2 linked regions of the Homo sapiens genome follow. The protein of the gene in region 1 purifies or fractionates together with the protein of each later gene. This does not show direct contact. Each region holds a gene or a part of one and is shown on either strand. Other genes may lie near its edges. The genes, in order: GMFG and CLSTN1.

The links.
Region 2: the proteins of GMFG (region 1) and CLSTN1 purify together in Homo sapiens (affinity purification with mass spectrometry; one large-scale study listed by BioGRID and IntAct). This does not show direct contact.

Annotation. Positions count from the first base shown.
Region 1 is NC_000019.10:39,332,950-39,337,230, forward strand, and holds the start of GMFG (glia maturation factor gamma), read right to left. Parts: upstream 3,095-4,281; 5' UTR 3,028-3,094; coding exon 3,025-3,027; intron 2,606-3,024; exon of another isoform or gene 2,583-2,605; coding exon 2,486-2,582; intron 2,362-2,485; coding exon 2,312-2,361; intron 178-2,311; coding exon 128-177; intron 1-127.
Region 2 is NC_000001.11:9,733,198-9,737,005, forward strand, and holds part of CLSTN1 (calsyntenin-1 isoform 1 precursor), read right to left. Parts: intron 2,846-3,808; coding exon 2,688-2,845; intron 2,419-2,687; coding exon 2,270-2,418; intron 1,978-2,269; coding exon 1,751-1,977; intron 946-1,750; coding exon 775-945; intron 350-774; coding exon 204-349; intron 1-203. UniProt on the Homo sapiens protein: Postsynaptic adhesion molecule that binds to presynaptic neurexins to mediate both excitatory and inhibitory synapse formation.

The sequences.
Region 1 (4,281 bases):
CACTCGGCCAAACACAGAGATTCAAAGTCCATGAATAGGGCTGGAACTCCAGCAGTCCCTTAGCCTATACCTCCAACATCACCCCTCCCCTCATGGCCTGATCCAACCCTTTCTTCCCCCAGGATACCTGGGCTGTCTCTCCGGCAACTCCATTTTGAGCTCCTCTGGGGAAATGTTCTGAGGCAAGAAAACAGAAGAAAAGACAAAGAATGAGGCAGGGCGCAGTGGCTCACACCTGTAATCCCAGCACTTTGGGAGGCCGAGGCAGGCGGATCACAAGGTCAGGAAATCATTCAGACCATCCTGGCTAACAGGGTGAAACCCGTCTCTACTAAAAATACAGAAAATTAGCCAGGCATGGTGGCATGCACCTGTAGTCCCAGCTACTCGAGAGGCTGAGGCAGGAGAATTGCTTGAATCCGGGATGCAGAGGTTGCAGTGAGCCGAGATCGCGCCACTGCACTCCAGCCTGGGAGACAGAGTGAGACTCCATTTCCAACAAAAAAATTAGCCAGGCGTGTTCAGGAGGCTGAGGCAGGAGAATTGCTTGAACCCGGGAGGCGGAGGTTGCAGTGAATCAAGATTGTGCCATAGCACTCCAGCCTGAGCAAAAAAGATCGAAACTCCGTCTCAAAAAAAAAAAAAAAAAAAAGAATGACCACCTTTAGGTGAGCACTTACCATGTGCCAAGGCATCGTTCTATGAAACACACATGGATTAATTCATGCAACTATCCCGTAAGTCTGTGGGGTAGGTCCCATCATTATGCCCACTATACAGCTGAGAAAACTGAGGCCCAGAGGTGTTAAGGCATTTGCCCAAGATTGCACAGATAGAAAGCAGCAGAGTTGAGATTTGAATCTGGGTTCGAATCATAACTGCTTCACTATACTGCCTTTCAGAGGGCCTGAGAGAGCCCCAGCCCCCAGTCTCCATGGATTCCCTTATAAATCCTTATCGCAACACTAGAGAAATAAGCCTTATTATCATTCTTGTTATTGATAAAGACAGTGAGGCCACCAGGGGGGTGAGGTCTACCCCCTTTTTTTTTTTTGTAGAGATGGAGTCTTTTTTTTTTTTTTTTTTTTTTTGAGACAGAGTCTGTCGCCCAGGCTGGAGTGCAGTGGCACGATCTTGGCTCACTGCAAGCTCCGCCTCCGGGGTTCACGCCATTCTCCTGCCTCAGCCTCCCGAGTAGCTGGGACTACAGGCACCCGCCACCACACCCAGCTAATTTTTTGAATTTTTAGTAGAGACGGGGTTTCACCATGTTAGCCAGGATGGTCTCGATCTCCTGACCTTGTGATCCGCCCGCCTCAGCCTCCCAAAGTGCTGAGATTACAGGCGTGAGCCACGGCACCCAGCCGAGATGGGGTCTTGCTTTGTTGCCCAGGTTGGTCTCAAAACTCCCAGCCTCAAGCAACCCTCCCACCTCAGCCTCCTGTGTAGCTGAGATCACAGGTGCACACCACTGTGCTTGGCTAATTTTTGTATTTTTAGTAGAGTTAGGGTGTTACCATGTTGCCCAGGCTGGTCTTAAACTCCTGGGCTCAAGTGATCCTCCTGCCTCAGCCTCCCAAAGCGCTGGGATTACAGGCATGAGCCACCATGCCTGGCTAGCTTTTTAACTTATATGGAAACTCTTTCATTTAAATGCCAATAAAGCATTATTATCATCATTATTAAGATCATCATCACCTTATTGAGCACATACTAAGTGCCAGGCCTTGTTCTAAACCCATTACAAGAATTAAATCACTGGATGTAAAAACAAGCCTATGAGATAAGTACTATTCTCCCCATTTCACAGATGAGGAAATAGAGACACAAACAGGCAAAGTCTCTTGCTGGGGGTCATGAGTGAGCTAGAACTTGATCTCCAGGGTTTTTTGTTTTTTTGTTTTTTGTTTTTGTTTTTGAGACAGAGTCTTGCTCTGTGGTTCAGACTGAAGTGTAGTGGCACAATCTCGGCTCACTACAGCCTCCATCTCCCGGGTTCCAGCGATTCTCCTGCCTCGGCCTCCCAAGTAGCTGTGATTACAGGTGCCCACCACCATGCCTAGCTAACTTTTTATATTTTTAGTACAGATGGGGTTTCACCATGTTTGCCAGGCTGGTCTTGAACTCCCAACCTCAGGTGATCCACCTGCCTCGGCCTCCCAAAGTGCTGGGATTACAGGCATGAGCCACTGTGCTCGGCCAATCTCCAGGTCTTTCTACCCCCATGCCAGGCTCTTCATATCAGTTCCAACCACTTGGTTCTCCCAGTCTCACCCTGTACCTCCCAGTCCCAATCACCCCAGCCCATCACCTGAAATTCTTCCTCCAGCACCACCATCTGCCGGTCTTTGTCCACCTTCACTGGGGAGGGGTGGCACACAGGGATTAGACACTCCCCCTGATCCATGGGGGACACAAGCCCAGCCCTCCCTATCTGCCCTCACCACCGCCCTCCCATCCTTCTGTGGGGGAAGATGTCACTCACTTATGATGGCTGCATTGTCTGTCTCTTTTCGGAAGCGGAATTTCCTCAGCTTTTCTGTTAGCTCTGGGTCTACCTCGCACACCACCAGGGAGTCAGACTGCCGGAGGGACCCAGGAAGAGCTGAAATGGCCTGGCCTCAGCCCTCACCCCTTCCCCAAACCTGTTTCTCCATCCACTAATGAAGAGGAGCATCGCGCCGGCCCATCTGATGCCTTTGTGAACATTGAGAAAAGGCACCCTTCCCACAGAGTAGATACCCCTCACCAGGGCACTCAGCTTGGGGGGCGGAGCAGAGGCTGGGTTCCCGCCTTCTCCACGGGGACTCTTGGGGGACACTCAAGGAGGTGCAGAGATCCACTTCCTGAGCCTAAACCCAGAGCCACTGTCTCTCTGTTCTTCCAGCCGGGCTGTTCACCACAGTTGGGCCCCCTTCCCGGCCCGTGACCTCCATCCCATAGCCTGACCTTCGCCCAGGTGTCCTCCAAGCCCCAGCCCCAACCCCAGCCCCAGCTCTTCCCATAGAACCCCTGGCCCCTGACCATGATTGTTCTGTCCACAGGCCTCTTCTTTTCTTAGTTCCGCTGTCTTCTAGGCGTGGGGACCGGGGCTGTAGGGGGGCGGGCTGTGCAGTAGGAGGAAGGTTTCATCCAACACCACATCCTGTTTATGCCCTTTCTGGGACAACTGTCACAGAGGGCTCCTCCCCCTCCTTCCTTCCCCTCATCTGCCAGGACCTGTCAGGAAATCGCTCAGACCAGGGTTCCAAAGCTTCCTTGCTGTGTGACCCTAGCTAAGTAACTTCACCCCTCTGATTTGAGATTGTGGTGAGGATATAAATAGCTTCACATCGGCCGGGCATGGTGGCTCACACCTGTAATGCCAGCACTTTGGGAGGCCGAGGCGGGCGGATCACCTGAGGTCAGGAGTTGGAGACCAGCCTGACCAACATGGCAAAACCCCATCTCTACTAAAAATACAAAATATTAGCCTGGCATGGTGGTGCACGCCTGTGATCCCAGCTACTCGGGAGTCTGAGGCACAAGAATTGCTTGAATCCGAGCAGCAGAGGTTGCAGTGAGCCAAGATCACATCATTGCACTCTATCCCAGGCAATAAAAATACAAATAAATAAAAATAAATAAATAAATAGCTTCACATAGCTGCCAGCATGGCAGACACAATAGGTACTAAAAACGAACTATTTTGCTCCTCCCCTCCTCCAGGTGGCCTTCCTAGATTTACCCCCATCTGGGATATTTGAATTGCAGGGCTGGAAAAGGGGAGTTTAGTCTTTTGCTGGTCAGACTGACGCCCATTATGTCAATGGCAAAATGGGGACCAGAGGGGCAACCCCACAGTGCCTGGGTAATGGTGACTTTTTTCCTGCACTTTTCCAACCTCACTAGCCTTGCAATGACCTATGAGGCCCTACAACAAGGGAGTTCAATCCCGTCAGACCGGTACCCAATTTTTTTTTTTTGAGACAGGGTCTCACTCTGTCGCCCAGGCTGGAGTGCAGTGGTGCGATCTCAGCTCACTGCAACCTCCGCCTCCCAGGTTCAAGCCATTCTCCGGCCTCAGCCTCCCAAGTAGCTGGGACTACAGGCACGTGCCACTACGCCCGGCTAATTTTTGTATTTTTAGTAGAGATGGGGTTTCACCATGTTGGCCATGTTGGTCTCGAACTCCTGACCTCAAATGATCCACCTGCCTCAGCCTCCGAAAGTGCTGGGATTCCAGGTGTGAGCCACTGTGAGCCACCATGCCCGGCTATTTTTTTTATTGAGTATTTTTGC
Region 2 (3,808 bases), on another chromosome or scaffold:
ACCCCAAACACAACTTGTCACTCCAACAAGCCCAGGTGTAACCTGCAGCAGGCCCCAGGCTGGAAAGGCGACCCCCTAGAATGAGCCTGTATAGCTGCCATCATGAATGCTCTGAGGTTGGCGTTTGTGAATATTAGGGCTGCAAATCAGCGCCCTCACTCACTGCTGCTATTGGCCCTGCTCAGTGGGAGCCTTGTACTCACCTCCACCTTAAATTCGTTGCTGATGTAGCGGCCATTCAGCTCTGAGCAGATGAGCTTAAACTTCCGGTCAAGCAAGGACCTGGCATGCCAGTTCCGATAGCGCAGCAGGTGCAAAACCTCCTCGTAGCTGGCCATGGTGTCCACGCCTGCAGGGGTTGAAAGGGGGAAGATTGCCGGGTGGCTTAGGGCAGGAGCATGGGCAGGGCTGCAGCCGTCAGCACAGGCAGGCTCAATTAGACACCCAGGTTAGCTAGGCCAAGGGGTCACACAAGTTGGCTTTCTAGCCATGGGAATAAATGCAATGTGCACAGGGGCATTCTTCCCTCTGTGGGGGACGTGTCATCCCACGCCTCAACCCTCCCCCTTTAGAGAGTAGTGGCTACACATCCGGTACCTGTCCAGGAGACAGGAGTATGCGTGCAGCCAACAATGATCCCAGCGAACGTGCTCCTTCCCCATCTCCCTCTAAGATAACTCAACATTCTCAGATGGCAGGCAGCAGCCAGCCAAGAGCTCTCAAAGTCCCCTCTTGCAGCCTGGCCCACCTGCGTGGCTGCAGCGCTCCCCTTACCTGTGAAGGTCATGCCCAGTTCAGAGCTGCTCACTTCAATGCCCTTCTGCTGCAGGCGGGCCATGTCCACCTCCAGGCTCTCCTGCTCGTGGTTCAGCTCCTCTCCCTCCACCGTGACCTCACAGGTATCCAGGTCGTGCACGATCTCCTCGGACACCAGTGATTCTTGAACTGCAAAAGAGGCCCAACCAGAAATATTAAGTAGGGGCAGTGGGGCCCAGCGTGGCGGGGCACACTGGATGCCCTGCCGGCTCACCCCAAACCTACATGGCTCTCGTAAGGACCAACGACAGAAGCAAGCGAGAGTTGCTTTCAAGAAACGGCTGGGCGCAGTGGCTCACGCCTGTAATCCCAGCACTTTGGGAGGCCAAGACGGGTGGATCACCTGAGGTCAGGAGTTTGAGACCAGCCTGGCCAACAGGGTGAAAGCCCGTCTCTACTAAAAATACAAAAATTAACCGGGCGTTGTGGCAGGTCCCTGTAATCCCAGCTATTCGGGAGGCTGAGGCAGGAGAATCGCTTGAACTCAGGAGGTGGATGCTGCAGTTAGCCAAGATGACACCATTGCACTCCAGCCTGGGCGACAGAGTGAGACTCCATCTCAAAAAAAAAAAAAAAGGGGGGGAGTTTCATGTGTCCTGAGCAAGAATTGTGGGGACATTGTGCCTCCATGGGCTGGCCAGCCTGGCAGGTGCAAGCAGTGTCTCCCGTAAGTGCCCTCAACCCCTCAACCTCAAGCCACATCTCAAAGCCTGGCAGCAACCAGGAAAAGATGTAAGACCCCTCCAGATGGGATTCCAGAGATCACCATGAGCTCCAGCTCACGGGTCAGATTCCAGAAGCACACCCGAGAGAACACCAACGAAAGATTAAAACCTCCCCAAATCCCACAGAGACAAAGAGCCCCGCCAAGTACATGGGGACAATGGGGTTTCCGGCCGAGGCGAGGGAGCCCGCGCCCCACAGAGCACATTACCTGTGGGGTCCTCAGCCCCGTCCCCTTCAGGCTCCACTTCTCTCGTGATGGTGCTGATGATGCGAAGCTCAGGGAAAAGGAACACCCCTTCTGAGCTTTCAAATTCAGAAGCTGCTCGGGCAAAATGGTGGACGCCACTCAGGCTGATCTTGGGCTCCTCGGGCTGTAAAACCATCACGTAGCCATCTACCGGGGGGACCGAAATGCAGGTGGCCTCGTTAAAACACCTGCCAGCAAGAAATGGGGAAGGGTCAGGGCTTTGGGAGCCGATCTTGGAGCCCACCTGTGCAAAGGCACATGGAGGTGGGATACAGAGGCCCCCACTAACACCTGCCGGGGCCACTCCAGGAACACACTTGCAAACAAGATGCGTAAATATCACTCAGCTCTCTGCCCCACACTTTCTGGTTACACACGATGGCTCACCTTTCCTTACAGAAGGGGTTAGGCTGTCTTAAAAACCTAAATATACAAGTGTCATTGGGCAAAACAGGCCGGCTGTTAAAAATCAGGACGTACTTGATTGTGCTGGTGATTTTGAGTCTGCGAATTCCGGGCGTGGGGAACTGCCGGGAGTTCAGGTACGAGATGTGCTGCATGGCCTTATCCAATTCCCCGAGGTCTTCTCCCTCCAAGGTCAATACCAACTGGCTGGGGTGTGCTTGGATCTGAAATCACACCAGCCACAGAGAGGAGAAGAATAAGCCAGTAACCGCAGGAGCTGAAACCACAGATGCCTCCACAAAGGGGACTGGCCTGGGTTCGATTTGAATTGCTGACTTGAAAAAGAAAAGCTCGTTTAAGTCCAGTGAACACAACTCTTTTACCCAACAGTAAACGTATCAATCACAGATTACTCACTCCCTCATCCCACCAGCCTCCGGGGCTGTAGTCTAAGGGGCCCATGAGTGGTGTGCAGTCGAGCGCTCGGTGTTACCTGCACGCCTCTGCCACTGTCTTCGAGGACCTGCAGGTCCAGCCCCTCCTTGCAGGTATACAGACAGTCGATCACCTTCTTATCCGCGAGTTTCCCGGAACGGAGAGTTAAGCCAGCCAGATTGCCTCGGAAAAACTGGGTCATGTGCAGGTCGCCACCTTTGGGTCAGGGGAGAAAAGGCGAAGTCAGGCGTGCAACCCAGCATCGCCCAACTCACTTCTCACTCAACACGGTGTTACCGGTGCTGGCAGCTCAGTGGATGGACATGCGGGTTAGTTCATACCAAGTCCTGTTAGCCTTGCAATCTACATGGAAGCGCAATGAAGAAATTAAACCGTTTATGATCATGCACATGGCCTGGAGAAAGGGAGAGTTGGGGGTGTCTCACCTGAAGCCAAGAGGTCCCCTGAGGGTCCCCACACCTCTGGCCACTACCTGGTAAGGTGGCCTACCCTGTTCTCATCACCAGGGTGCATGGTGACACTTCCTACGCCACCAGCCTCTCCAGCCACTGCCTTCTCAGCTGGCTGGGTTCCACATGGCTGTTTTCTCTACCTGGCACGCCCTGGGGAATGAACCCACACAAGCGAGGCAGGGAGGATAAAAGGGAGGCTTAAAATACTCCCTGCATGGAACGGCCTATTTCAAGGATGCTATGGTGTTAAGTCCCATCCTTCCTGCCTCCTCCTGAGGATTGCTGAGAAGTGCAGATGTTACAACGAAAACCAAAACCCAGAAAATGGCCCTTGACAGATGACAACAAAGAGCCAGAAACAGGTTACACTAAACCTTGTTCTTAAACTGAAAAGGAAAAGGGACAAATTTTCAGCAATGTGTCTCATTCTGGTACAGAAATCAGGCACTGTAAATCATGACTAGGAATTGAGGTTTCTAAGAAACGGCTATTTGCCAGGCATGGTGGCTCACGCCTGTAATCCCAGCGCTTCAGGAGGCCGAGGCGGGTGGATCACCTGAGGTCAGAGTTTGAGACCAGCCTGGCGAACATGGCGAAACCCCGTCTCTACTAAAAATATAAATATTAGCTGGGCATGGTGGTGCATGCCTGTAGTCCCAGCTACTTGGGAGGCTGAAGCAGGAGAATTGCTTGCACCCAGGAGGTG